6 linked regions of the Homo sapiens genome follow. The protein of the gene in region 5 purifies or fractionates together with the protein of the main gene of each other region. This does not show direct contact. Each region holds a gene or a part of one and is shown on either strand. Other genes may lie near its edges. The genes, in order: VPS50, ZNF207, ZNF174, RPRD1A, BMAL1 and ZNF44.

Region 1 (4,999 bases), on a different chromosome or scaffold from region 5:
CACGCCTGAGTTTTAATGTAGACTATCCTCTTAGCACGCATATTAATTGATAATTCAGTTAATTGGTCCTGTAATGCCCTTCTCACAGCCTTTTACATGGTCTTGCAGTAGGCAGTATTGAGAACCTGGTCTCTGGGACCACACTGACTCAGGTAGAATCCCAACTCAGTCACATATGATCTCAGTGGTCTTAGGTATATTTAGCATTTCATAGTCTACGTTTATTTGTCTCACCAAATGGGTTTAAGTCTAATACCTATTGTTTGATATTGTTTTGATTGTATAAATATCAAACATATTTACTGTATCTTACATAGACTTACAATGTGTGAGAGGCCAAATAGAAATTATTTGGAAAACAAACACAAATTGGATTAAATCTAAAAATATATATTGTCTTTTATTTTCAGAAGGGAGTAATATGATAGGTACTGAAGAAACTAATTTTGATCGTGGCTACATAAAAAAGAAATTAGAACATGGACTTACACGAATATGGCAGGTTTGGTTTTTTTAAAATTATTTTTTTCACAGAAGCAATAGAAATGTCATGTCATAGTTTTAGAAATTCAGTTTTAAGTTTTCTATATATGTATTCTTTGCAGATTTAATCATATGTTTCTGTTTGGAATTAGGCTATCATTTAATTTCTGTAATGTATTTGGACTATAAGTGGCAGGAAAAAAGTTTTTTAATTTGAAAATCTCCACTGGAAATATTCATACATGTCTTGAGTACATCTTTTGTTTTAGAGGCCTAGCAAATTTCCACTATCATAGAGAAATGTATGCTTTCTCAGTGAGATGTTCTGTTTATTATTTCATTTATCTGTGTTTTCTTAATTTTTTTTTCTGTTAATTTTAGAAAAGGAGTAACTAAGTAGATAGCATACTTAGGTCAGATTATAGTTTAGAATGAATAATTCTTTTTTTCTCAGTCAATGATCTTTGTACCTTGAGGGAATCTTACATGCTTATTGGCTGAATATATCTGGTTTTAGTCCATTTGGGCTCCTATAACAAAATATTCTAGACTGCATAGTTTATAAACAGAGAAGTTTATTTCTTAGAATTCTAAAGGCTGGAAGTCAGAGATCAGGGTGCCAGCATTGTTGGGAGGGAGGGCCTGCTTCCTGGTTCATAGACATTGTCTTGCTGTATCCTCAAATAGTGGAAGGGATGAAGGAGCTCTCTGGGGTCCCTTCTATAGGGGAACTAATCTAATTAATGAGGGCTCTACCTTCACGATTTAATCATCTCACAAAGGCCCCACCTTCTAATATATTATCACCTTGGAGGTTAGAATTTCAGCTTCGGAATTTTGGGTAGACATGAACATTCAGACCATAGCAGTATCTTATTAAGTTTTTCTTTACAATTTAGTAACTCAGTTGTTGTAATCAGATAATTTGTTACTTCTTAGATCACAGTGTAATTTCTTTGAAGATAACTTACTCTTTTTGGACTTCTTTGAACCTTGGAAGACTATAGACCCTTTGGCCATGTTATGGTCTTTTAAAATGTATTTTTGATTTTTCTAATGAGGCTGATCTTTATTTTGACCATCTTTTTTTTTCTTTCTTTCTTTTGATTGATTGATTGATTGATTGAGACAGGGTCTCACTCTGTCACCCAGGCTGGAGTGTGGTGGCAGAGTCATGGCCCAGTGCAGCCTCGACCTCTTGGGCTCAGGTGATCCTTCTGCCTCAGCCTCCTGAGTAGCTGGGACCACAGATGTGCACCACCATGCCTAATTTTCTTAAATTATTATTGGTGGATATGGGGTCTTGCTATGTTGCCCAGACTGGTCTTGAACTCCTGGGCCCAAGTGATATTCCTGCCTTGGCCTCCCAAAGTGCTGGGATTACAGGCATCAGCCACCATGCCCAGCTTGACCATCTTTTATAGGATATGTTTTGAAAAAAATTGTTTAGGAAAATATATTTTGAAAACATAAATTTCTTCATGAATCAGTTAATATTTATAATTTAGTGCTCTTCTAATTTTTGATAATTTTGTATTCGATATGCTATTTGATTTTATGCTTTAGTATTTAAAATTTATTTTTGTGGTTGTAAGAGGTTTGACATATATTTTCTCATTTGTCTATATTAAACTCATAACCATATTAAACATTTATTAAAATTAAATATTTAATTTATCATTAATTGTGGATTTAGGCTGACTGTTTTCTGAGTATTATGCATAAAAAGAAAGGAAAATCTTATAGTTATTGAATATACACCCAGGATCAGATATGATTTGTTTCTGACTTAGTCTCCCAATAGGCCTTAAGTGTACTTTGGTAAAATTTTACAATCTATGATAGAATTTCTGGTAATTCAGTGTACTTTGAAATACTGACTTAGCACTTTATGTAGCTACTTTCCATTCAGTTTGGCAACCTGATGGCATTCCTGGTATAGGAAATGGGATTGTCTCTATTACATCCCTTAAGGATGTTGGCTATTGGCCTAAATAGATATTCGTTAACAAATTAGGAATATATTCCTGTCTCATTTTAATCTGGAACTATAGAGTAAATGCTTCTGATAACTTATTTTCTATATTTTGGGTTTGCTTGATTTTCTTTTTCTTTGCCTTACAGGATGTTCAGCTAAAAGTAAAAACCTACTTGCTTGGAACTGATTTGTCTATATTCAAATATGATGATTTCATCTTTGTTTTGGATATAATCAGCAGGTAGTATTTAAGATCTTGTCTTATTCTTTAGTTTGAGTCATTCAACCATGATAAATCATGAGCTAGTGAGTTATCATCTATAACTTCTTTATGGAAATGAAGATAATTTTTGCTGCTAAGTTTGTGAGTGTATTTAAATATTTCTGCCCTTTGGGTGTTTGTAAACCTTTATGGATTTGTGATCTTTAGAATTTTTTCACATGTCCAAATTTTAGTGATTTTTTTTATCTTTGAAGAAAGAGAAACCACACTTCTTTTTCTCTATAAGGCTGCTGCTGAAATTTACTGAAACCTTTTTATCCAACTAGGTTGATGCAAGTTGGAGAAGAATTTTGTGGTAGCAAGTCTGAAGTTTTACAGGAATCTATTAGAAAACAAAGTGTCAATTATTTCAAGAATTACCATAGGTAAGAACTCTAATAAGATATGAATCGACTTATTTAGGTAATGAGAATACTTTTGTCTAATACTTAATCTTATAGCATTAATTGATTTTAAACAATTACTTTTGAATTTGAATGTGTTGTAGCTTTTTTAAGATGGTTAAGGATTTTTTTAACCAAAATATGATGAAATGTTCTCATTACATATTCATTGTACATTTTAATATATTTTTGTCTTGAGGGGCTTAAAATATTGAACTGATTTTTTAATGAGTAAAACATGATTATTATATCAAGGTTCACAGAAAGAATTTGGCCACTGTTCCATACCTGCATACATATGGGTGTGCTTATAAGGAAGTTAAATCAGTAGAGGCAGTGCTCAGTGAGGGGGTGCTTGAGAGTATCTATCTTTTAAATGTAAGAAGGATTCTAGAGGAGAGGATGTGATATTCAGAATTCCCCTATAAATCCAAATTTGTATACTGCATTGCTTTGCAAAACAATCACTGCTAATATTTAAAAGAGTGACTAGGAATGGTTTGGGTAGTGGAGGAAGGTGGGAAAGAATGTTTATAATAGCAGTGTGATTATATCCTTACAGCAGCAATAAATTGAGGGAAGGGAGAGCTAACATGAGATTTCTCTTGATATAAGCTAGACCCCAAGTTGTATCCCTTTTGTCCTTTGAGTTGAGTTTCATCTTACTTTTTATTCTGAACTTTTACTTTTTACAATTGAATTTAAGTTTTGATTTCCTTGTTATTTGGTCCCAGAGAGAGTCATGATTTGAAATTCTGCTTTTTCTCCTTGTTCATAGTCAACACCTGCTCACAGTGATATATGCCATGTCAAAAGAGAGATGACTGAACACCAAACCATTGATTAATTAATTATTATATATATTTGAATACAAGTTATCTCTGTTAATTGTAAACAATGAAGTAAATTGTTTGAAAAAGATTTAAATTGAACTATACTAAAGCAGAGCCTTTGAGTTTCATGACTGAGAATGTTTAAAAATTTTTTAAAAATTTAATTGACTAAACCTCAGGGAAACAGTGGGAAGGGACCAACAGGAAGCCCTAACACTGCCTTTATTTATAAGTTCCTTGTCTGCTAAAACTTAAGCCCTGACTAAAACAAAAGGCTGGCCCTATAAACATTCCTGTATAGAAGTGGGAGGGGCCTGTTAATCATGGATGGGGAAATAAAATGGAAGCACAAAGGAGCCGGAAGCCTCACTTTCCCTGCAGTATGAAGGCATGCCAAATGTCTCTCTTCCCAGAGATTGCTTTGTATCCAACATGACAACTGGGAGAACTTTTGGTGTTCCTGGTGTCTAGGATGTGTGTACAATATAGAGACACTGATTTATTTAGTAGCTTCCATTCTGCATTCTGTTTTACTTATTGTCAAAAGGTGTCTGTCATCTGTAGCAACTAGCTAGGGGCATTTTGACCATGATGGAAATTCCTCACAGAGTTCACATTAATAAAATTAGAAAATACAGAAATGAATGACTTAAATCTTCCTCAAACACTCAACATTTTAAATAACTTCTCTTAGAAACATTTGTGAAACTTATTTCTCATTGATGTGGCTGTGCTATATTATTAGAAGGAAAGCTGGGTTGAGTAATAGTAGACTTGGGTTCTTGTCGCATTTTTTGCTGCTTACCAACTGTCTGGTATTGGCAAATCCTTTAACCTCTCTGGCCTGTGATTTTATGCATTGTAAAATGAAGTGGCCAGATTAAAAGGTCTCCATAAGTGTTGCCTAGACATCTTGACCCGTTTTTTTGCAGTATTGTATATTGTAAAAATTGGGGCAGGTTAAACAGCAAAAATTTAATTATTACTTAGTATTCTTCTTTTTCCCTAGTATTTAAACAAAAGTTTAAGGTAGTCTAGT
Region 2 (4,999 bases), on a different chromosome or scaffold from region 5:
ATTCTCCTGCCTCAGCCTTCGGAGTAGCTGGGATTAGAGGTGTGTGCCACCACACCTGGCTAATTTTTGTGTTTTTAGTAGAGACAGGGTTTCACCATGTTGGTCAGGCTGGTCTTGAACTCCTGACCTCGTGATCTGCCCGCCTCGGCCTCCCAAAGTGCTGGGATTACAGATGTGAGTCACCACACCTGGCCTAGTTTTTATATTTTTTAGTAGAAACGGGGTTTCACCATGTTGGTCAGGCTGGTCTCAAACTCCTGACCTCAAGCAATCTACCTGCTGAGGCCTCCCTAAGTGCTGGGATTACAGGTGTGAGCCACCATCTCTCTCCCCTTGTGATAATATTCTTTTTTCAGCCTCACTTAAGCCCAGAGTTAGTATTTTCAATTATAAATTTAATGGTAGGGTAGTTGGAGTGGCTCACACCTGTAATCCCAGCACTATGGGCAGGCAGTGCAGGAAAATTGCTTGAGCCCAGAAATTGGGAGACCAACCTAGGCAATAGAGAATGACACCCTGTCTTTACAAAAAAAAAATACAAAAATTAGCCGGGTGTGGTGGCACATGCCTATAGTCTAAGCTGAGGTGGGAGGATCTCTTGAGCCCAAGGGGTTGAGGCTTCAGTGAGCTGTGAATTCTCCAGTCTGGGCAACAGAGTGAGATCCTATTTAGATAAATCGATTGATTGATCACTTGATAGATAGATAAAATTGAATGGTAGATGATAGATTTATTTGGAATTTAAAATTTGAGCTCTGTTTTTGAAGACATACTTGATTTGTATATATGCAGTACCATTTGGATCATTCCATTTTCTTATATTATTATTCATAATTGAATTCCAAATAGAATTAGCAAGTGTTAAGGCATATGAAAATGAAGGACTCCTATAATTTCAGTGCTTTAGGTAGCTGAGGCCGTAGGATCACTTGAGGCCAAAAGTTCAAGACCTCACCTTTACCCCCCCCCCAAAAAAAAAAAAAAAAAGCCCAGTGTGGTGGCATGTGTCTGCAGTCCCAGCTACTTGGGAGACTGTGGCGGGAGGATCGCTTCAGCCCAGGAGTTTGAGAGTGCAGTGAGCTGCAGTCGTGCCACTGCTGTACAGCCTGCATCGCAGAGCAAGACTTTACTAAAAATTTAAAAGAAAAAATACTGATTTAGGATAATCATTTTACCTTTCATAGGACAGGGAAAGAACGTTAATCTTGTTTAATATAGGGCGAAAACACATTTGAAGAACATAGAGCAGTATTAATTGAATTTTTGGGGAAGAAAAATCTCATGAAGTAATTTTACCCATATATGTATTTTTAAATATTGAATGTTGTAAATAAACTTTCTTAGTTTTTACTCTATGGAAATAATTTTTTTTTTTTAACAGAAAGTCAAAAAAAGAAGCAACAAGATGATTCTGATGAATATGATGATGACGACTCTGCAGCCTCAACTTCATTTCAGCCACAGCCTGTTCAACCTCAGCAAGGTTATATTCCTCCAATGGCACAGCCAGGACTGCCACCAGTACCAGGAGCACCAGGAATGCCTCCAGGTAGCACATAGGATTGCTTAAAATCTAACATTTTTAGGACATTATTGATATTGTATCGAAGTATTACTTTCTTCCCTCTAACTCTTTAATATTTGTTATTATTTTGATTGAAATTCTTGCTTGTAGGCATACCTCCATTAATGCCAGGTGTTCCTCCTCTGATGCCAGGAATGCCACCAGTTATGCCAGGCATGCCACCTGGGTAAGAAAATTCTTTTAATTGCCCTGTAGGCTTGTGCCTAGTAATGATCTTTTTCAATTTGGATGTTATATGAATGAAATGTTACTTTCCATTTTTTGCTTCTAGAAGGTATGGGCTCTATATATCTTGTCTAATAAAGGGATCAACCAGTAAATTTAAGGAATATAAATTTGCCTCTGAGTAATAGATTTTTGGGTTTTAGGGTATATGTAAGCAACCATCTACTTCAATTGCATTTACTGTGATTAAAGTAGTTGGTTATTTATAGATTTGCGTTTCTGAGATTCAGAATTATCTGTGACACTTTGTAGTTGTGACAAGAAGCAGAGAAACTCTGTAAATGATTTATTTGTCAAAGCATCAAAACTAAAATGAATATGAGGTGCTTGTGCCCATCACTTTTACTTAAATATTGTTGGATGTGAGAGGTATACAATACACTTTCCCACTGTATTTTGAAAATCACAGTTAGATTTTGATTTTGTCATACATTTTCACAGATTGCATCATCAGAGAAAATACACCCAGTCATTTTGCGGTGAAAACATGTAAGCATCTCATTCATAATGTAATTCAGGAGGTATAATCATACTGTCATTTTTTTATGTGTGTGTTTAATGGTATCTATTCAGTTGACTTCAGAAATTTTCTAACCTTCCTCACTAAAACTTGCAAGCTAATTAACACAGGTCTCTTAAAGAAGGAAAATAAAACATCTTTTAGGAAACGGTAATAGACCCATATAAACATACTTCAAATGTGCAGTGATTTTCTCCAAACTATTGAAAGTAATGGGACCTGTTAATAAGGGTTAGTATTTAAGAAAGACTATATTCTATGAAATTACATGCTTTATTATTATAGGATGTAATGGAATTTTCTAATCTATTAATAGAAGTTAATCTTCTGATAAAAATTTTAAATCAAGAACTGAATTTACCCACAAAAATTTAAAAAATTTGAAAGAAAATTGACCAATTTATCATTTTTTAAGTGAATTGGACACTGATATTTGAAGGTGAGCTCTTTTAGGGGAAAAAATAAGTGGGTTGTGTTTTTAAGTCATGGTTTAGTGGTAGGTAGTTATTGTAAATAGGCCATCTGGTTTTACTTTTGAGTGTCTTTAATTTTGGTGGTAGTATTTCCTTTCTCTAAAAAAAAAAAGTGTGTGTGTGTGTGTGTGTGTGTGTATATGTATGTATTTGACACAGGGTCTCTTACTCTGTCGCCCAGACTACAGTGCAGTGGCGCAGTCACAGCTTACTGCAGCCTTGACCTCCTGGGCTCAAGTGATCCTCCCACCTCAGCCCTCTGAGTATCTGGGACTACAGGCGCACACTACTGCACCCAGCTAATGTTTAAAATTTTTGCTTTTTTAAAAAGTTATGGTCTCACTTTTTGCCCAGCCTGGTTTGAACTCCTGAGTTCAAGCAGTCCTTGAGCCTTGGCCTCTCAAAACTTCTGGGATTATAGGCATGAGCTGCTGCACCTAGCCAAATAAAAAATCTCATTTCACAGGGTACATTCATTCAATCTTTTTCTTTTCAAAATCCAACACAACTCTGAAATAGAGATTTCTTCTTTTTCTTTAATACTCTGTGGATATTTTCCAAGTGGAAAAAGTGGTGAATTTGCTTTCCCATTACACATATTTTAGATGAGGCCTCTTGTACATATTGAGAGTATATTTGTTCTCAAATGACTTTAAATGTTTTGTCAACATTTTTTTTTTATTGGTAAACCAAAGAGTTTGCTGGGTTTTAGACAATTTATTTTGATAGGATTGTTACAGTGTGTTGTGTGTTCTTTCAGCTTTGATTCATTTCAGTATTAGAGGTCAGATTCAAGTCTTCTATCTAGTGTTGTTTCAGGCTTTAGCCAGAATATTTTTTAATGGTTTATGCTGTTCATTAACTTACTGTTTCTTGAAATTTGCTTTCTAATAGAATGATGCCAATGGGTGGAATGATGCCACCTGGACCAGGAATACCACCTCTGATGCCTGGAATGCCACCAGGTATATGTTAGATAATTTCATTTTAATATGATGTACAGGCTTTATTTCTAAGTTTTTTTAGACGTCTGTGGGCATTAGTATAATGAAATTTAAAAATTTTTGAAAGTTGCAAGTTCCTGTGAGAAGTGTTATATGGACCCTTTTTTAAAAAATGTATTTTGGTAGATATCTCGGCTCACTGCAACCTCTGCCTCACAGGTTCAGGCGATTCTTCTGCCTCAGCCTCCTGAGTAGCTGGGATTACAGGCGCCTGCTACCACACCTGGCTAATTTTTGTGTATTTAGTAGAGACGGGGTTTTACCATGTTGACCAGGTTGGTCTTGAACTTCTGACCTCAGGTGATCCACCCACCTTGGCCTCCCAAAGTGCTGGGATTACAGGTGTGAGCCACCACGCCTGGCTGGCCCTTTCTTGAAGTTTGAAATAGATGATAGGTTTCAAAGCAGCCAAAGTGAGTCACGGCCTATGTGCTGAATCTCACATACTTAGAGCGCTTGTATTTGTTAGGAATGTTTTAGACAAGTAATAGAGAAATCCAACAAACTTTTTTTTTTTTTTTTTTTTTTTTTTTTGAGATGGAATCTCGCTCTGTCACCCAGGCTGGAGCATGATCTCGGCTCACTGCAACCTCTGCTTCCGGGGTTCAAGTGATTCTCCTGCCTCAGCCTCCCGAGTAGCTGGGAGTACAGGCGCCCACTACCACGCCTGGCTCATTTTTGTATTTTTAGTAGAGATGGGGTTTCGCCATGTCGGCCAGCTGGTCTCAAACTCCTGACCTCAGGTTATCCGCCTGCCTTGGCCTCCCGAAGTGCTGGGATTACAGGCGTGAGCCACTGTGCCCAGCCCCAACAAACTGTATTAAACGGTGTAGGCATTCATTGTCTCAGTCAACAAAAAAGTGGTAGATTCAGTGGCTCAATGATATTTATTAACCCATGCTTTTTTTGACTTTGCTCACCTTAGCTTTTTTTCCTCAGAAATGTCATTTGGTTATAAGACAGCTCAGACAAGAAGGGGTGTCGGTTGTAGTGCACTCTCCATTTTCTTTTCTTCTTTTTTTTTTTTGAGACAGGGTGTTGGTCTGATACTCGTGCTGATGTGCCGTGGCACGATCATAGCTCACTGCAGCCGCAGCCTCCCAAAGTGCTGGGATTACAGGTGTGAGTGAGCCTCAGCACCTGGCCTCCTTTTTCTTCTATTTGGAACCAAAATAACTTTCCCAGAAGCTCT
Region 3 (4,324 bases), on a different chromosome or scaffold from region 5:
TTCATGTTGGTTCATCTGTTCATAGATTTTTGGGTTGTTTCTACTTTTTGGTTATTATGAAGAATGCTGCTATAAATGTGTGTTTTTGTGTAGACATGTTTTCATTTCTCTTGAGTATATACCTAGGAGTGGAATTACCATATGCTAGGTCATGTGGTAATTCCATGTTTAACTTATGAGGAACTACCAGACTGTTTTCCAAAGCAGCTACACCATTTTACATCCCCACCAATACTGTGTGAGGATTCCGATTTCTCCACATTCTTGCTAGCACTTGTTATTGTCTTATACCCATCCTATTCGGTGAGAAATTTTGATTTGAGGTTTTGATTTACATTTCCCTAGTGACTAATGGTGTTGAACATCTTTTCATGTGCTTATTATCCAGTTACATATCTTGTGTGGAAAAATATCTGTTCAGATCCTTTGGTCATTTTTAAATTAGGTTATTTGTCTTTATTTTTTATAAGAGTCCTTTATGTATTCTAGATACTAGACCCTTATGTGTAATTTGCAAATCTTTTCTCTCATTTTGTGGGTTGTCTCACTTTCTTGACAGTGTCCTTTGACGCACACGTTTTTCATTTTGCTGCAGTCTAATTTATCTATTTTTTTCTTTCTTTATGCTTTGGTGTCATATGTAAAATAGCACTGCCTAATCCAAGGGCACAAATATGTACAGCTATGGTTTCTTCAAGGAGACATAGATTTAGCTCTTACTTTCAGCTATTTGGTCCATTTTAAGTTTATTTTTTCCCCATACATAAACAAGTCAATTTTTATATAGGTTTTGAGGTAGGGGTCTGTCAATCTGATCAGGGGTCTGTCTTAATCTGATCAGGCTCTTACAACAAATTGCCTTAGACTAGGTAATTTATAAACAACAGAAATTTGTTGCTCATAGTTCCTGGATACTGGGAAGTTCAAGATCAAGGTGCCAGCAGATTTGGTGTCTGGCGAGGGCCCATTCCTCATAAATGGTGCCTGCTATGAGTCCCCACATGGTAGTCTCTTGGGTTTCTTTTATAAGGACACTAATCCCATTTATGAGGACCCCACCCTCATAACCTAATCACCTCCCAGATGCCCCACCTCCCAAGACCACTGCACTGGGGACTGTCAATATATGTGTGTCAGGGGACAGGGGGGATAAACATTCAGACCATAGCAGGGTCCAACTTCATTCTCTTGTATGTGGAAATCCAGTAGTCCTAGAATCCTTTATGAAAAAGACTATTCTTTTCCCATTGAATTGTCTTGTCAAAAAGCAATTGACCCTGATTGTATAGGCTGATTATTTACATTTGAATTTAAATGAATTAAAATTAAAAAAAAATTTAAAATTAAGTTCCTTAGTCACAGTAGTCACATTTCAAGTACCCAGTAGCCACATAGTCACATGTGGCTAGTGGCTGCCATATTGAACAACGTGCATGTGCCTGTGCATGCACGTGTGCACACACACATTTTCCACATCACAAGGGATCCTTCTCCAGATCCTGTGATTTCCCATAGGCCGTTCCAGCTCATCTCCATCCAGACTGTCAATCCTTCTGTAATTAGGATACATGGCTAAGCCCTGATTCCAGTTTCTGAACTCATATACTGTCAAATTTGTAATGAAAGAAAACATCACAGTCTCTGAACTTACCATCTTTTGAAGAGAAGGTGGTTGTCAATTAGTGTTTACTAAGTGAGGGGTATTTGTTGAAATAGCTCAGGCATTGGACTACAGCAGTAAAATTTGCAATGTTGAGATTTCACCTCTCTTCCTTCTTCATTAGATACCCAATTCTGATGGGTTTGCTTTTCCCTGTTCTTCATTTCCTAAACCTTTCCCTAAAGGGAGAAAGGAAGAAGGAGGATGGAGAACTTGGTTCCTAAATTTAATATAAATCACAGTCACCCCAGGAGCCTGCTAACTGTGCAGATTATCAGGCCCAACCCCCCGAGATTCTGACCCAGCAGCTCTGGGGGAAGGGTGAAGAGCCTGCTTGTTTAACAAGTGCTCCAGATGAGTCTAATGCAAGTTGCCAGCGGAGGGCCACCCTTTGAGAAACCTCTCAGAGTATTTCATAACTCTTGCTGAAGTTATTTCTTCCAAGTGCAGAAAATGAAGCATTTTCTTTCTAATTATAGAGGCCCCCAGAATGAGAAGTGACAACAAGGAAAATCCACAACAGGAAGGGGCTAAAGGAGCAAAGCCATGTGCAGTGTCAGCTGGCAGATCCAAAGGGAATGGTCTGCAGAATCCTGAACCAAGAGGGGCAAATATGAGTGAACCTCGGTTGTCACGGAGGCAGGTCAGCTCCCCAAATGCTCAAAAGCCATTTGCTCACTACCAGAGACATTGCAGGGTGGAATACATCAGCAGCCCCCTAAAAAGCCACCCACTGAGAGAGCTAAAGAAAAGCAAAGGAGGTAAACGGAGTCTGAGCAACCGTTTGCAACATCTTGGTCACCAGCCCACCCGCTCAGCAAAGAAACCCTACAAATGTGATGACTGTGGGAAAAGCTTCACGTGGAATTCAGAGCTGAAGAGACACAAGAGAGTCCACACAGGAGAGAGACCCTACACGTGCGGAGAGTGTGGAAACTGCTTTGGGCGGCAGTCAACCCTGAAGCTGCACCAGAGGATCCACACTGGAGAGAAGCCATACCAGTGTGGCCAGTGTGGGAAAAGCTTTCGCCAGAGCTCAAACCTTCACCAGCATCACCGACTTCACCATGGGGACTAAAAGGAGCACTCCATGCTTTAGATTCACACGGAAGGTGTTTGTGTTTCTCCTCCCCCTTACTTGCATGTAAATCACAAAAACTGTGTGACTTACAAGGAAAGCACGAGGCCCTTGAGGAATGATGATGCACATTCTGCTGTGAGGAGGCCCAGAAAAGGCCAACCAGGGCCCAACCGTGCATGATGACAGGGTGAAGAGAAGGCAGGTCTGGGCACTGGGGCAAAGAGAACTTAAGTCTCTGCAGAGAGCAAGGAGTAACTACTGAGAGAGAATCAGGACAATCCTGCAGGTGGCCCGCTTACTGTTAAATCGTCCCTCTGTTGCTTTATCCTCTAAAATATGTTAAGGGATAAATTCTATATATATAGTTATGCATTTGCTGTCATACCAGACAATTTTTTATCATGAGCACACTTCTTTAATAAAGATGAGTGATCTACCAGAATTTCAAGGCAAAGTTAATTGGAAAATAGATCCCTCATATTCTTTCTGTAATTACTAGCTGTTTATAGCAAAGGATGAATTAAATGAGAATATGCACGTTTGTGCGAGAAGAGTTTCCAAGTAGTTAGATGGTGCTTTTACAAAAAGAAAAGAAAATTACATTTGAGGGATCTTTTTTGTATCAAAGCACCTTTTTTTTTTCCTTTTTATTTTTTGAGACAGGGTCTCGCTATGTTGCCCAGGCTGGTCTCGAACTCCTGGGCTCAAGCAATGCTCCTGCCTTGGCATCCCAAAGTGCTGGGATTGCAAGTGTGAACCACCGTGCCTGTTCTCAAAGCACCTTTGATTGAGAAAAAAAAAATCTACACAGTTGCTGCAACCCCAGCCTAACACATAAGGAAAAGCTACAGTGAGAAGCAAGTAGTGGACAAAGAGTACTAAGGAGATATAAAAGGGAATTCTTCCCACTCTCCTTTCTCACTTAGCCCATTAGCTTTAAGAATAACAAAATGCAATGGGGGTACAGTGGCTCACACATGTAATCCTAGCACTTTGAGAGGCTGAGGCAGGGTGATCGAGCCCAGGAGTTTGAGACCAGCCTGGGCAATGTAGCTAAATCCTGTCTCTACAAAAAATACAAAAATTAGCCAGGCATGATGGTGCATGCCTATAATCCCAGCTAGCTACTCTTGGAGGCTGAGGCAAAAGTATTGTTTGAGCCCAGGAGTTAGAGGCTGCAGTGAGCTATGATTGCACCACTCCACTCTAGCCTGGATGACAGAGTGAGACTCTGTCTCAGGAAAAAAAAAAAATAGCAAAAGGATTGGGGTAATGAAAATATTCTAAGACTGGATTACAGTGATGGTTGCACAACTCAGTAAATTTACTAAAAATAATTGAAATGGGCTAATTTTATGATATGTAAATTGTACCTCAACAGCGTATTTTTAAGTGACAAAATATATTTATATAAAATGAGCCCTGGAAATAAGCCTGAGCGATCATCTAATGCCACCTCCTCGTTTTCTCAAAGCGGAAATTAAAATGCAAATCAGTATACAATTCCTAGCTCATTGCTCAGTTTAGAGAAAACTTTTGGCAGATTAGTGCATTCCTGATGCAGAAAATAAGAAGCAAGTAGC
Region 4 (4,999 bases), on a different chromosome or scaffold from region 5:
ATGACTGTCAACTATGAAATGTGGCTGGAAGGCACTGGGGGAAAAGGGGGTTGTGGGGAGTGGCATCTGATCTATTTTCTACAGTTACACTTCAAATATAAATTCTGTTTTTGTAAACAGTGACAAATGACCATCATCATAAGTGAGAAAGTATAAAGCAGAATAAAGTTACAGTCTTCTCTTCAATTTTCAAAAACATGAGACAATACAGGCTTCAGGGTTTGATATTTATTTTTAGCAGGAAGAATATACTAATGGTGACGACATCGTTAGAAGATACGCCCATGTCCAATATCTGCAACAGAAGCTCAATAGAAGTTAAAGAAACCATACTAAAAGACTAAAGACAAAAATTGTATGACATTACTTACCCTTAATTCTGTGGACAATAAAACAATTAACACTATGTTTAAAATTGAGGTTTCATCACAAGGTGAAATAGTGGCAAGTTAATTATCAAATTCATCTTTTAAAAAAAAAAACCATCTTTTCCTTTCCATGTAGAAGTGGGCAACCTCTTCAAAGGTATAGTGGCCACCAACTATCATCATCTGAGGGTATTTATACGAGCAGAGAAGGAGTAAATTGCAAAGGAGTAGTGCTAACTTGAGAGCTGGGAATTTGAGGTGGGAATAATTAAGTAGCAGCTCCCATGGGTAGCAATGGCAATCTAATCTAAGCACCATTTTTGGCACAATTAGAGACTGCTGAATCAATAACTAAACACTAATAAAAATAACTTAATGGGGTAGTACCATGACATTCCTACAAATTTACAGTGAGCTTTCTGTAAATAAAGGGATTCAAATTAGAAATTCTCCTACATATTATTACAATAAGAAATTGCCACAGCAATACAATTTAAACAAGAACTCATCAACTGAAAGATTTTTTTTACATAAAACCAAATCTGGCTCATGTATCCCTAACAATTGCTACTCTAATCAAAGGAAATACGAGCATTTTTTAAAATCACCTCCTGTACTCCCAGATTTCTCATTAGCGGTATTAATTATTACTTAATTTACAGGAGCAATGAATTTCTGCCTAAGAGTGTGAGCCGGGAGTGGGGCTGGAACATGTAAGCATTAGAATTGGCGGGTGGAATTAAGGGAGTAATTTAAAGACTTAATGGTATACCTAAAAGACTACATCTTCTCAAAACAGAAACTAAATAAATCCTACTACAAGTGACTGCCACCTGCTATTTTCCTATTATTTCTGTGATACATTAGGGTTAAACTGGTAAGATAAATTATAGTTGCATGGAATTTCACAAGAATAATTTTTAAATGCAATCAATTTTGCTAATTCCAAATTTCTAAGTTTACTTGCAAGATTAATTTGGTTCAAGTAGAAGAAAAACCATTAATACAAGGAGAAGCTTACCTGGGCTACTGCTTAAAAAGGTCTATGTTAAAAAATGCAAAATGTGCACATAGATTAAAATATTTTAAAATTCCTAACAAAAAGAGAATTAAATAAATAAGCACTAAAGAAGAAAAAGGTTACGCACTTCCAATTTATGCTCTTTCTCTGCAAGGGCTTCCTTTTGACAACGAAGAAAATCTGCTAACATTCGAGTGAGTTGCTTTCTATCATCTATTTCTGCCGCCAATCTGCCATTGTAATCTGCCAGCAACATACACGCATCCTCTACCATTTTGGAAAGCCTTTCTCCAGATTCTTTATCTAAGAAAAGCACGGGATAATAAAATATTATACAACAAAAACAATGACATATGCTGTTCTCTCATCCCAACTCCCAAAAAAGTTCTGGATCACATTTTCTTTTCTTACCTGTTATTTTATCTAATAGAGATACTTCTTGGACTTCAACAGGTAAAGAAGCTATCCTCTGATGAACTGCTGCATCACCTGAGGCTGCATTTTCCAGATCTTGTAATGCTCTAACGAGATCTAGAGTCTAAAAAGTACACAACTTCAGAACCAAAATAAATTGAGCTTAAACAAGTGCAAAAGACTTTAATTTCATATTCTTTCATCCCTATGGGCTATTTACTAGTACAAAGCTCCTAATATAAACTGCTTTTGAAGACAATCAATTTCTTTCATATGTTAAGAAAAAAGGAGGCTATACTATGTTAGGTGTTGAAAATATAAACAGGACAAGGCCCTAGACCTTGAAGAGAGCTTACTCCAGTGGTGGAGACAGAGTAATAATAATTATTTGAGTACTAAAATGAGGTAATGAGGATTTATATGGCAAATACATCAGTGGTGAAAGAGAAGGTAGGCTATAACATCAACCTAGAGAATACAAGTTTTATGTATGATATATTCATTACATTATCATTGTACACTAGAAGTTTTTTTAGTATTAAATTGGATATTATGGAAAGAGGGTTACAAATCATCTACTACAACACAGAAGAGTCTCCCAGATTTCATTTCTAAATGCTGTAATTAAAGCCCAAGAGAAATGTAGTTCTAGAATATGTTCAAATATGATATCTTCAAGTATCCTATGGCTTGTTAATAAGATTAAAATATTTCAAAATTCCATAATCTGATGACTAATATATATTGCTTAACCAGTACTGAAATTATTTTATCATTAAAATATTTTACTTCCACTGTTTTCATACAAGCTATAATTAGGAGGGAAGCGCAACTCTTTGCTGGTGATTTCACAACTCATAATGTCTATAAAGTTATTCCAAAGAAAAACAATTAAATTTTATTTTTACTAGTTTCCATTCTCCAGCCCATCTTTTTCATCTTTCTTTCTTAATTTCTAATACTAGATTCAGAAACACTAGGAAATTACACATATGCTTTAAAAAATATAGGATATTAGTAATTCTGTGTATATATTAAGATTTTTAAACTATTCCCTTGAAAAAAAGGGTAGCACATGACAAATGATCAAATGTGGTAGGAATGAATGAAACTAATAAGAAATATACTATCCTACGTGTGCTCACTCATTAGAAGTGTTTAAAATTTCAGTATTTTAAAAAATAATTTTGTTGTAAGATATATCCCCTCTACAATTAAGGTGTGCTTAAGAGTAACAACAATTACCAGAAAGCTTGTTTCTCATCTTGCCACAACTAATATATTATTTTTAAAATCATTCTTAGAAAATTCTAATTGTCTGGAGTTCTAAGAAGAAATCTGGCTTTATTGTCTTGGCAATGCATTGATGCTTTAATTACAACCTGATCTCATCACACCTTCACAGTCCTACATGAGTACATTCTAAGTTCCCAATGCCTGATCAAGCATCAGATAAGAAAGCAAAGTTGTCTGAAACAATACTAAGCCTACTACTTCCTACCAGAGGAGAATGAAATGAGTTTAACGGGAACCTACAAAGAGATTTTAGCCATTCTTATAAAGAATAACACACACACAAAAATGAAGACCACAAAGCTGAACCATTGATAATTAAGCAGCACAACTAATCTAAAAAACGATCATTATAAAACAAAGAGCAACAGCATTTTACACAAGTACTAGAGGAGAGGCAGATGATTACTTAAAAATACTCCTAAGATATGCAACTGTGGTTACCCTTTCATCAGGGAGAGCGGAAGGAGACCAGATCCTTTATCTAGAACTTAGGTAAAACACTGTTCATAGAATCATGAGGCTCTTAGCCAAAAATGATTTTCTGTCATGAGTTATTACCAAATAGGAAGAGACATAAATCTTAGTGTTTGGTTGTTCCAAATGTAACATTCTTATCACTTTTCTATTCAAGCTCTTGTCCATAGTGGCCAATGGGCTTCAGCATTCCTATCACTGAACAAACAGGTAGGCTGACTCAGGTCGTGGCCTTGGTCTGATTCCTTCTGCTTCTCCAGTACTGAGACTAATATAAATCCACAGTTACAGGTAGTAATTGATTGTATTTTTCTTTCACCTTCATGGGGGAAAGAGCTCCTCCCAGCCTCTGATTTTATTCAGTGAATTTGGAACCAGTCCTCTAACTCCCACGGAGCACTGTGAGTTCCTGTTGCCCTTGTGAGTTCCTGTGACCTTAAAGGATACTAATTTCTGGCAACCCCATGTCTGCTTCGGGACCAGGGCTCAGCAGGAGCCAGGTTTTGTCTCACCTATGAAGTTAGGTGTACAATTTCTAACCCATGAAAATACATTCGCCTTGTTTTAAGAGTATGGTTATGTCTTCATTTTCTCATTTTACACTTTATCTGTCCCGCCTACATGTTTGAAACATAGAAGGAGGAAGCTTAAAGACTCAATGCCCACTTAAAAAAAAAAAAAAAAAAAAGTCTTTCTGGAATTAATCTGATGGTTAAGGAATACCATACCATACCAACATGTAGGAGGACACAGAGTGTTAAGATAATAATTCTAACTTATTTTTCCACAGAATTACATAGTTCTATATAGTTACAAAGAAATGTATGAACACATATATATCACTCTAACACTACTTTTTTTTTTTTTGAGACGGAGTCTCGCTCTGTCACCCAGGATGGAGTGCAGTGGTGCTATCTCGGTTCACTGCAAGCTCCGCCTCCCAGGTTCACGCCATTCTCCTGCCTCAGCCTCCCGAGTAGCTGGGACTACAGGCGCCCGCCACCACGCCCAGCTAATTTTTTGTATTTTTTAGTAGAGACGGGGTTTCACCATATTAGCCAGGATGGTCTCGATCTCCTGACCTCATGATCCGACCACCTTGGCCTCCCAAAGTGCTGGGATTACAGGCGTGAGCCACTGCGCCCGGCCACTCTAACACTACTTTTTACATTTAAAAACAAAAATACTTAAAGGGGCAGTGATTATGTCCAAGAATGAAAATTTTAGTGTATTTAAATCATACATGAGCCGGGCACAGTGGCTCATGCCTATAATCCCAGCACTTTGGGAGGCCAAGGTGGGAGGATCACTTGAGGCCAGGAGTTCAAGACCAGCCTGGCCAACATGGTGAAACCCCATCTCTATTAAACACAAAAATTAGCTGGGCTTGGTGGCCCGTGCCTGTAGTCTCAGCTATTTGGAAGGC
Region 5 (4,999 bases):
TCCAGCCCATTGAACATCACGAGTACGCCTCCCCCTGATGCCTCTTCTCCAGGAGGCAAGAAGGTAAGACTGATGATTCTTAGCCTAAGCTAGAGAACCTCTTGCCCAAGATCTGAAATGTTGGGGGTGGGAGTATGGAATTGCAACTGCGATTGCTGAAACAATTTGGACTACTTCCTCCTTGAAGTAAATGCATCTGTGTGAGGCTGGATACAAAGCATACTGGTAGGGCTAGGGAGGCTTGCTGACATCCTCAGAGGCTTTCTTCCATGTGAGTGGAAGAAGGGAGAAAGAATAAGGAATGGGGAACTGTCAGTTCATTTAATTGAGGGAGCAATTCAAGAGTTCCCATGAGGGAAAGATTATTGAGTACCTCACATAGAAAAGTTTCTCATTTTCTGCCAGGAATTTTCAAGGGAGAAAATATTAGTGTCTAGGGCAGGCAATGGAAACAGCAATGCCACCAGCAGTGCTTTGGAAATCAAGCCATGCTTTATAGCTGCAGAATACTTGGGGATCTGCTGCCTGGGGGTTCCATTGGTGTGACAGCATTGGATCCAAGCAGTGGATCAATCACCAGCCCTCATGAAGAGCTTGCTATAAGACTACACTATAAATAGGTTTAGGAACCAGTCATTTGTTTTCATCTTTGCTGGAGAACTTATAAGCCTAGGCCCATCTTAATCGTAAATTATAAATCTGTTTATATTGCCTGATGCCAGTAGAGCTTAGGACAGTTTAAAGGCCATCATTTTGGACACAATGGCTTCCTTTCCCCATCTCCTAAAACAGAGAGAGAGAATATCAGGAATTTCCATAGGCAGGACTCCTAGGGCACAAACCATCAAAAGCAGGGCAAGGATTTTCAAAACTGAGCTCCTCGGAGGTTTGTTCAGGTTACCAAGAGCTGTGGTGTTACCAGGTGGGATGGGCGTGGGGATAGTTGCTAAGGAGAGAGGGTAAGAGTAGAAATCCTGCTTCTACAAGGGCAGCAATACTTCTTTTTTATACAGGAATCTTCTGCAAACATTTCTATTTGAAAAAGCGTTTTGCTCCCCCCAAAAAAGGTTGAAAGTTAACAAATTAATGGGTAAGACTACAAAGTAAGACCTGGGTTCGAAGCTTGGCCTTGCCATGTGCTAGTTATGTGAACTTGTACAACTTTCAAGCCCTAGTTTTCTTTATAATGGAGCTAATAATGGTTAGGGTAGCCAGCATCTTTGCACGAGGTCCTACTGTGAGATAATATATGTGAAAGTGCTTGGCCCAAAATACCACTGACAGATGAAGTCTGAGCTTGGTGTCCCGTGACCCCCGCCCCCCTGCCCACAACACACACACTGCTTGCCAGCTGTCTTCTTAGCTGTTCTTCTGTTATACCTCCAGGTCCTTCCTGCATATTGGATCCACCATCTTCTTAGGGTGGTCTTCCAGTCTCTGCTTCTTAAGTTAACTTTTAGGCACTTGACTTGACTCCTGGTATTACCAAGGATTCTACTTCTTGGTTTTGAAAGGTTATCAGTCCAGTATAGGCTTAAATATTACTCAAAGAACTTTCATATACATTGTCTCATCTCACCTTCACAACATTATAGTGACAAGATCCAGGCTCCTCAGCGTTCGTTTTATAAGTATGGCCCCCAGGCTACAATCCTGGGCTCATGGCTTCCAATTCTTTTCACATCAACAACTACCAGAAATCAAAAGCTGTGCTCTGCATCATAAAGCCCCAGCTATTTTTGAGGCACTTATGAAAATTCTCCCTTTTCTTTGAGAAGAATGGATTATAAAATGGATCTGTGAGAAGAAATTTGGATGTGTTCTCACGAGATGAGTCCTGGGCAGCAGGACTTATAAGAAAAGCAGCTTAAACAAGACAGTTAAAACTGACAGCAGTATTAAATGGTGCACCATACCCAGCCCTTTCCAGTCACTTTCAAATTTGGAAGGTCCAAAAATGAACCATTTAGCCTGCAGTTGTTTGTCAGGATCAAGCTAAAAAGGAAGCCTAAGTGAGCCTCCATAGGTCGCAAGAGAGTACAGACATCCAGAAGCACTAAGGAAAATTCAGATAAAGCAGCAGTTCTACAAATGTCATCTGCAGTCTTTTTCCAGAAAGAGAGGGGGCACAAGATCCTTTTAAGGGTCTGCAAGGTTAAAGCTATTTTCTTAATAACATTAAAACGTTAATTTTTTCCCTGTATTGATAATGTGCACTATTCATACTAAAAGCACGGTTGGGTAAAATTGCTGGCATTTTACAAAAATCAGACAAGTGGCACCAAACTATACTAGTAGTCATTGTATTCTTCACCACCACACACTCACAGTAAAAAAATAGTTTAAAGCCAGTTTCATTTAAGATTGTCCATCATGGCTAGGTGCAGTGGCTCACCCCTGTAATCTCAGCACTCTGGGAAGCTGAGGCAGGCAAACTGCTTGAGTCCAGCAGTTCCAGGCAAGTCTGGGCAACATAGAGAAATCCCATCTCTACTAAAAAATACAAAAAAAATTATCCAGGTGTGGTGGTGTACCTGTAATCCCAGCTACTCCGGGGACTGAGGTGGGAGAATCACCTGAGCCCAGGAGGTTGAGGCTGCAGTGAGCTGAGATTGTGCCACTGTACTCCAGCCTGGGCAACCAGAGTGAGACCCTATCAAGGAGGGAAGGAGGAAAGGAAGGAAGGGAGTGAGGGAGGGAGGGAAAATGTCCATCATTACTTTTATAAAATTCTCAAGCACACATCTTTTTAATGCTCTGTGACAAAATGAGAAGTACACAGAACTTGTGCTGCATACCAAAGTATGATGTTTGTCTCAAAAACTACTTGTGTGATTAAGTTGTGAGTTGAACTAGCTACTATTTTCATTGGACACCATTTTTATTGTATATGGTCATTCGGTTTTGGGTATTTAGAATACTTTTTTTTTGGAAATGAATGAAGTGAACCTGTCACTTTAAGGAAAATGACTGACATTTGTTGCCAATGATAAAATCTGAGCTTTCAAGCAAAAATTGGAATTTTTAGAAAACTTGTCTCTGCTACTTTGACCTTGAGATCTTCCTAAAACTTAAAAAATGTTGTTGATGAGATAGGGAGTATTAATAATAGTGATATTTTGATGCTCTATAATGAAATGTGTCAATATATAGAAGATCTGCATAACTCAGTGAACCAATATTTTGTAACTAAACAATGCAAGGTATTTCAAAATCATGTAAGGGTAAAAGATCCATCCTAAGTGCCAAGATATAAAGAGTACAAAACATTCATTGATATGGTTTCAGATTCCACATTGCAACTCACCTTTAAGAAACTTCTACGTGTCAAGTTTTGAAGTGGTATCAAAAAAGAATACAATTATTTGAAAAGTCTATTAAAATATGCCTCCCTTTTCCAACTACTTATCTGTGGGAGGTTGGATTTCCTTCATATACTTGAATCACAAGACGTATCTAAATAGACTGAATGGAAAAACATATATGAGAATCCAGTTGAAAATTATTAAGCCAGACATTAGATTTGCAAAAATGTAAGATAATACTCTGCCTGGTAATTTTTTGTTACTGTTTTAGAAAATAGTTATTTTTCATTAAAATACTATTCATTATTTATGTTAACATGTAGCGGGTTTATTACATTTAAGAAATCTATTAGTTTTAATTTCAAATACAGTAAATATTGATAAATACAGCCTACATAAGCAAAAGTTCTTTGGAGTCCTCAATGATTTTTTTAAGAGTGTAAAAGGGTCCCTAGACCAAAACGTTGCTGTGGAAATAAAGTAAGTTATAATGCCACCTGCTGGCAAAGCCTGAAATCATTGCTGCTCCTGAAAGCAGCAGCTACCAAACTGTTTCCTCACGTATATCCAGATAGGTCTCAAAGAATGCTCTTCTTTGAGACTCAGCCAGGGGAAGGCAGCTGGGGTGAGTGGGGGAGATTTTGAGACAGAGTTCTCTTACTGAGTAGTAGTAATAATCCTCCCCAGTAGCCTGTCTTAACTTAAACCACAGGTTACTGAAGTTGGCACCTGTAGTATAAGAGATTTACTTCTGTTTTCTTCATTTGACTCCTTGAGCTGTGTCTCTTCACAGCTTGTTAACTCCACTTTTTCTTCTTCAGAAATATCTGTCACTATAAGATGTTTTATTCCCTTATAGGGGAAACGTCTAGCTGGGCTCATTGAAGTTTAGGCATTGGTCCTAAAGAAATATGTGGGCATCATGATTCCAGGCAGTTGAATGCTCTTGGGATTTTATTCAGCCTTTAAGTTGCCTCTGTGGGCTCACTAAAATGGAGAGAAAAGAATAGTTCGGGGGAGAGGTTTTTTCTTACTCTGACCATGTCTGTCTAACAGTTCCTTGTTTGAAATCATCCAATAGAAAACTGAAGCCATTTGAAGCTTCTCCCCACCCCACCCCATGCTTCATTTTCCTTTTGGCATTGCTCATAATACTGATTCAAACTTCACACTTCCCTCCTTTTGTTTGTAGATTTTAAATGGAGGGACTCCAGACATTCCTTCCAGTGGCCTACTATCAGGCCAGGCTCAGGAGAACCCAGGTTATCCATATTCTGATAGTTCTTCTATTCTTGGTAAGTGGCATCATTATTCGTTTCCATTGCAATGAGCTTGCAAAACATCTTACATAAAGTCAATTTTAAGAACTGAACTGTGTGAAACAAGCTAATCCTAGATAAATTTGATAGGAACAGAATAAAAGTTTAAAATTTGTTTAAATCTCTAAAAAGTTGACCAGTATTTGAGTTTTGGTGGAGGTCCAAGTTTGTGCCTGGAACTCAAGAGGAGGCTACAGCTACCTAGACATAGGCTTTCTCCCATGTGGGGCATAATCTCTTCAGAGAGAGAAGGCTAATGAAGGTTCAGAGATAATGCCTAGAAGGGTGATTAGTAAGCATATCAGAAGGTATTAAAAGTCATTAAGTGAAAAGAGTTTGCTTTTCCCATCACATCCATCTTTTTCTCCCCTGGGC
Region 6 (5,649 bases), on a different chromosome or scaffold from region 5:
CTGAGGGATGAAAGGAATCGGAATGCTGCTAAAGTGTAGACATAGATTGCCAGCTATTTCTGCAGATAACACCACTATTGTAGATTAGCATTTGTAGACGTATTTTCAGTTTTTGTTTGTTTGTTTGTTTTTTTTTTGCATGTCTGACACCACCTGCACCTGCCAACTCTGCTCCTGTGGCCCCAACCAGAAGTGATTCAGCATAACAGGATAGGTTTTTTTTTTTTTTGTCTTTTTTTTGTTTTTTTTTGAGACGGAGTTTCGCTCTTGTTGCCCAGGCTGGAGTGCAAAGGCACGATCTCGGCTTGGCGCGATCTCAGCTCACCGCAACCTCCACCTCCCGGGTTCAAGTGATTCTCCCGCCTTAGCCTCCCAGGTAGCTGGGATTACAGACATGTGCCACCACGCCCAGCTAATTTTGTATTTTTAGTAGAGACGAGCTTTCTCCATGTTGGTCAGGCTGGTCTCAAACTCCCGACCTCAGGTGATCCGCCCGCCTGGGCCTCCCAAAGTTCTGGGATTACAGGTGTGAGCCACCGGGCCCGGCCTCTTTTTTTCTTTTTTAAATATGTAGCAGTACAAGCCGCAGACAAGAACCCCTCAGACACCGAGTTGTGGAAGGAAAGGGCTTTATTCAGCTGGGCTGGGAGCATCGGCGGACTCACGTCTCCAAAAACCGAGCTCCCCGAGTGAGCAATTCTTGTCCCTTTTAAGGGCTTACAACTAGGAGTCCGCGTGAGAGGGTCGTGATTGATGGAGCAAACAGTGGGTACGTGACTGGGGGCTGCATGCACCGGTAACCAGAACTGAACAGAACAGGACAGGGATTTTCACAGTGCTTTTCCATACAATGTCTGGAATCATAGATAACACAGTTAGGTCAGAGGTTGATTTTTAACTACCCAGCCCAGGGCACAAGCCGGGTTATCTGCCTGTGGATTTCATTTCTGCCTTTTAGTTTTTACTTCTTCTTTGGAGGCAGAAATTGGGCATAAGACAATATGAGGGGTGGTCTCCTCCCTTATAGTATAGAGACGGAGTTTCACTCTATGTCCAGGCTGGTCTTGAACTACTGGCCTCAAGCGATCCTCCCACCTAGGCCTCCCAAAGTATTGGGATTACAGCGGTGAGCCACCACGCACTGCCAAGAGGACAGATTCCATCCCCAGTGATTTCATCCCCACCCCAACCAGTCAGTAGCAAGCCTAGCTACCTCCACCCTTTCTCCCAAACTGCCCTTGAAAAACCCCTACCAGAGGACCTTGGATGAGAATAATTTGAGTAGTAACTCCGTCTCTCACGTATCGTAGCTGGCCTAGTGTTTATTAAACTTTTTTTTTAACTGCAATACCGTGGTCTTTATTTGCGTAGCGCGCAGAAAGAACCCATCCAGCGCTTATAGTGGAAGAAAGGCTTGACCTTGCAGGCGACAGCCTCATCCCAAATTCCTGGTCCCTGGAGGACATCAGCACCACCCCCCCACCCACCCACCCCCTGTCCCCCGCTGCTACAGTGTGGCCTGTGTGGCCTCGGCTGCCCTCCTGCTCTGAGGCCAAGGGATGGCTCCACTGGACAGTGAGTCTGGGATTCCTTGCACACAATTGTTCAGGAGGAAGAAGCAAAAAGGGCCCACTGCGTACAGGTAGGAAATTCCGCTTTAAGGCAAACGTTTCCCGGGACGGGTCGGGTCACAACGCAGGGAGGAAGCCCGCCCTGCCAGGGGCCGGGTCTGGAACCTGTTCATCCGGCTGCACTCAGCACTGTGAGATCGCTTCTTCTGTCACTCAGTGCCCAGGAGGCGGGACCTGGAGGGCTACCCAATCAAAGTCGTGGGCGGGTTCCTGAGAATTGTCAATCAGGCGCGAGGCAGAGAGGAGGGTGTGACGTTCCAGGAGCTAGTGGCCTCTTCACCCTGGTGACCTCTGTTCCGTATTCTGTCACTGAGAGACGCCCTGGGACATCTGTGGTGGCTTTTGTCGCGCTGGGACCTACCCTGACTACGGGAGTTGGGAGGACCCGGGACACCGCACAGCCGGGAAATGGTGAGTGTGCGGGGCCCGGCGTCCTGAGGCAGGGCGAAGGGCTGGTCGGAACCAGTCGGAACCGGCTGTGGCGGGACCCGGGCCTCGCCGCAGCGTCTTTGGGGTCTGGGACCTGAGCGCCCCCTGCGCACCTCGGTCCTCGGTCCGTTTGGCCGCAGGGTGGGGCTGGGCCGGCAGCCGGGACCCCGGGCGTCCTGTCCCGTCCCTGAGCTGCGACTGCGGCCCCGGCCCCGGCGCCCCTCTCTGGGCAGCTCCGCGCCCTCAGCCCCGCTTCTCCCCAGATTGTGCGGCGGAACCAGTACAGGTTCGCAGCCCAAGTCACTGCACCCGGACGCCGAGGGCTGCAGCAGAAACGGTTTAATAGGAGAGGACACCCTAGATCCGCCTCCGTGAGAGGTTTGAGGATGGGGTGTTTAGGGGTCTGGACGGGGGTGGTTGGGATGTGGGGTCGCTGGTTGGTGGAGAAGTGAGGGGTGAATCTTGGGACTGGAGGTGAAGAAACCGCATTCTGCTGCTGAGTGGGCTTCCTTGTGGGGTCTTCAGCCTGCTTGGCGCCAGCCTTTCCGCTGGAATTCAAGATCTGAGAAAGAACTTAGACGACTCTTGAGCAACTCTCAGAGATCTTATCCCCAGGCCAATGGGGAAGCCGGCGGTCAGCGTCTGCTGTGACCTGACTCTCAGGGAGGCGGCTTCCTGTGAAGCAGCGGGGCTGAGGGCACCTGGTTAATATCTAACTGCAATCTCGCCTCCAGCCTGGCTCGCAGTTCCTGTGAGCCCGGTGAGGAGGCTGCACGGTGACGGTGGGAGGGTCACTAGGCACAAACCAGACTCGTGTGTGGGGTTTGTGTGTGGGAGGAGCTGTGGTCTCTGTGCTCTTCAGTCCTTTCTTTCCAAGGGCGACCATTTCTCCTCCGAGGCTTTCAAAGATATTGGCATCAGGGTCTTTGAGACCTGTCCCTTCATCCTAACTCCTCTTGGGGCTAACAGTAAATCTTTTGGTTTCCAGAGCCTTCCATATGCTAACTTCACTCCTCAATTCCCAGTAACGTTATGAACCCTTTGTCAGCAAGACGATATTTCAAATAGACACAGAATTTTGTCGTTTGTTTTCAGATAGCAATGTATGGCTCTTTTTAAACAGATTTATTTTGTTTTCCTTAACATTTCACATGTGAGGAAGAAGAGAATAACCACCTGACACTGCTGTAAAAAAAACCAAACCTTTGTGCCTCTTTTATCTCCCCTAGGCACAGATGCCTTCTCAGTATGTCCTTTACAGGGTGATGTGACCTCAGCCCACCCTGTATCTTTTCCAGGCCCTGTGTTATGGAACTTTCTGGGGCTACCCTAAGATGCTGGAAGCTGCCAATCTCATGGAGGGCCTAGTGGATATCGGCCCTTGGGTCACTCTTCCCAGAGGACAGCCTGAGGTGTTGGAGTGGGGCCTCCCAAAGGATCAGGTGGATGCACTGGGGTGGGAGGAATCTTCTGGTATATCATTCCTGTAAAAAGCTAACCCCTGGGCTGGGCGCGGTGGCTCACGCCTGTAATCCCAGCACTTTGGGAAGCCGAGGCGGGCGGATCACCTGAGGTCAGGGGTTCAAGACCACCCTGGCCAACATGGTGAAACCCCATCTCTACTGAAAATACAAAAATTAGCCGGGCATGGTGGCAGGTGCCTGTAATCCCAGCTACATGGGAGGCTGAGGCAGGAGAATCACTTGAACCTGGGAGGTGGAGGTTGCAGTGAGCCGAAATCACAATCATGCCATTGCACTCCAGCCTGGGCGACAAGAGGGAAACTCTGTCTCAAAAAAAAAAAAAAAAAAAAAAAAACCTAACCTCTGGGACATTGACATTTTTTTCCCCAAGCCTAGTTTCCATTCCTTGGTGACGCATGGCTTATCAGAAAATTGGATGGTGTTATTCAGGGGACAAGACAAATGATTTCTGCCTTCTGGACTCTCTCCGACTGTGAAGCTAGAAAACTGTTTCTAAAAACTGAAAAACCCACCCAATGAGGTTTTGCATGAGCCTGAAAAAGACATAAGGCAGTGTCTCCTAGGAATGTGGTTGCTGAGCACTTCAATGAGCACCGTGGGGCTGGCGGATGTGCCAGGTGATAGAACGACCTGACCTGACGGTTGAGTGAGACTTGTCTGTGTTCCAGTCAGTTCTGCCCCACCCTGGGTTAGTTACCCTGAAAAGATTTGTTCAGTTATTTCCAATTTAATTTTTTATTAACTGTAAAGGGCATCCTATCATTAGAGATTATAGAGAAGATAAAGTGTTTCTAAAGAGGCCAGAAAGAGTTGGAATTCAGAAAACAAATTATATATATGTAGTTTTCTATTCCTTTTTTTTATTATTTTTATTTTTTATAAGACAGGGTCTCCCTCTGTTGCCCAGGCTGGAGTGTAGTGGCACCATCATGGCTCACTGCAGCTTAGGCAGCCTAGACTGCCTGGGCTCAGCCTCCGGAGTAGCTGGGAATGCCCACCATGCCCTACTAATTTTTGAGTATTTTGTAGTGATGGGGTTTCCTCATGTTGCCAGGCTGGTCTTGAAGTCCCGGGCTCAAGTGATCCTCCTGCCTTGGCCTCCCAAAGTGCTGGGATTACAGGCATGAGCCACTGGACCCAGGCCCTATTCCATTTTTTAAAAACTTTTTTTCTTTTCTTTTCTTTTTTTTTTTTTTCTGAGATGGAGTTTCACTATATTGCCCAGGCTGGAGTGCAATGGTACTATCTTGGTTCACTGCAACCTCTGCCTCCCAGGTTCAAGCAATTCTCCTTCCTCAGCCTCCCGAATAGCTGGGATTACAGGAACATGCCACCATGCCTGGCTAATTTTGTATTTTTAAGTAGAGACAGGGTTTCACCTTGCTGGCCAGGCTGGTCTTGAACTCCTGACCTCAGGTGATCCTCCCGCCTCGGCCAATGAAAGTTCTGGGATTACAGGTGTGAGCCACTGCACGCAGCCTTTTTCTTTTTTTTTTGAGACATGGTCTCCCTCTATCACCCAGGAGTGCTGTGGTACGATCTCAGCTTACTGCAACCTCTGCCTCCAGGGCTCAAGAGATCCTTCCACCTCAGCATCCCAAGTAGCTGCGACTACAGGCGTGCGCCACCACACCTGGCTAATTTTTGTATTTTTGGTAGAGATGGGGTTTCACCGTGTCGCCCAGGCTGGAGCATTTTTAAAAAACTTTTATTTACTTTTATTACCCCAGAGACCATGTAATAGGTTTCTCAGGTCTTTTATTGGATGATTTCAAATGGAATTTCAGGGCTTAGCAGTGTAAATACTACCAAGGGAAAAATTTGGGAAAACTCTTCCATTTTGGCTGCAGAAAAATGAATATATTTTCACAAGAATGTGTGGTAGGTATTTGGTTGAATTATAAAGCTTTATCAAAACTTTAGTTTCTCTTCTTTTTAGGCTGGAGAACTTGGGACAGTGGATAAGTCTGGTCTGTTCCTGTTATCTGGACTTGGCAGATTAATGCAACATTCTGTGGGACTTTGCAATAGCTAAAGAACTTAAATATCCTTTGTTTACTAAAGGCTTCATTATTATGGAAGTAGTAACTGATGTTTATTATCTG

What was found.
Region 1: the proteins of BMAL1 (region 5) and VPS50 purify together in Homo sapiens (affinity purification with mass spectrometry, with the first as the bait; one large-scale study listed by BioGRID). This does not show direct contact.
Region 2: the proteins of BMAL1 (region 5) and ZNF207 purify together in Homo sapiens (affinity purification with mass spectrometry, with the first as the bait; one large-scale study listed by BioGRID). This does not show direct contact.
Region 3: the proteins of BMAL1 (region 5) and ZNF174 purify together in Homo sapiens (affinity purification with mass spectrometry, with the first as the bait; one large-scale study listed by BioGRID). This does not show direct contact.
Region 4: the proteins of BMAL1 (region 5) and RPRD1A purify together in Homo sapiens (affinity purification with mass spectrometry, with the first as the bait; one large-scale study listed by BioGRID). This does not show direct contact.
Region 6: the proteins of BMAL1 (region 5) and ZNF44 purify together in Homo sapiens (affinity purification with mass spectrometry, with the first as the bait; one large-scale study listed by BioGRID). This does not show direct contact.

The regions. Positions count from the first base shown.
Region 1 is NC_000007.14:93,294,135-93,299,133, forward strand, and holds part of VPS50 (syndetin), read left to right. Parts: intron 1-410; coding exon 411-502; intron 503-2,607; coding exon 2,608-2,702; intron 2,703-3,010; coding exon 3,011-3,109; intron 3,110-4,999.
Region 2 is NC_000017.11:32,359,217-32,364,215, forward strand, and holds part of ZNF207 (BUB3-interacting and GLEBS motif-containing protein ZNF207), read left to right. Parts: intron 1-1,381; coding exon 1,382-1,549; intron 1,550-1,675; coding exon 1,676-1,751; intron 1,752-2,251; coding exon 2,252-2,299; intron 2,300-3,697; coding exon 3,698-3,768; intron 3,769-4,999. UniProt on the Homo sapiens protein: Kinetochore- and microtubule-binding protein that plays a key role in spindle assembly. ZNF207/BuGZ is mainly composed of disordered low-complexity regions and undergoes phase transition or coacervation to form temperature-dependent liquid droplets.
Region 3 is NC_000016.10:3,406,182-3,410,505, forward strand, and holds the end of ZNF174 (zinc finger protein 174), read left to right. Parts: intron 1-2,139; coding exon 2,140-2,738; 3' UTR 2,739-3,183; downstream 3,184-4,324. UniProt on the Homo sapiens protein: Transcriptional repressor.
Region 4 is NC_000018.10:36,025,384-36,030,382, forward strand, and holds part of RPRD1A (regulation of nuclear pre-mRNA domain-containing protein 1A), read right to left. Parts: intron 1,928-4,999; coding exon 1,801-1,927; intron 1,693-1,800; coding exon 1,517-1,692; intron 296-1,516; coding exon of another isoform or gene 215-295; exon of another isoform or gene 1-214. UniProt on the Homo sapiens protein: Interacts with phosphorylated C-terminal heptapeptide repeat domain (CTD) of the largest RNA polymerase II subunit POLR2A, and participates in dephosphorylation of the CTD by RPAP2.
Region 5 is NC_000011.10:13,381,192-13,386,190, forward strand, and holds part of BMAL1 (basic helix-loop-helix ARNT-like protein 1), read left to right. Parts: coding exon 1-63; intron 64-3,288; exon of another isoform or gene 3,289-3,533; intron 3,534-4,497; coding exon 4,498-4,600; intron 4,601-4,999. UniProt on the Homo sapiens protein: Transcriptional activator which forms a core component of the circadian clock.
Region 6 is NC_000019.10:12,291,085-12,296,733, reverse strand, and holds the start of ZNF44 (zinc finger protein 44), read left to right. Parts: upstream 1-1,850; 5' UTR 1,851-2,039; coding exon 2,040-2,042; intron 2,043-2,121; exon of another isoform or gene 2,122-2,438; intron 2,439-3,358; coding exon of another isoform or gene 3,359-3,502; intron 3,503-5,483; exon of another isoform or gene 5,484-5,514; intron 5,515-5,649. UniProt on the Homo sapiens protein: May be involved in transcriptional regulation.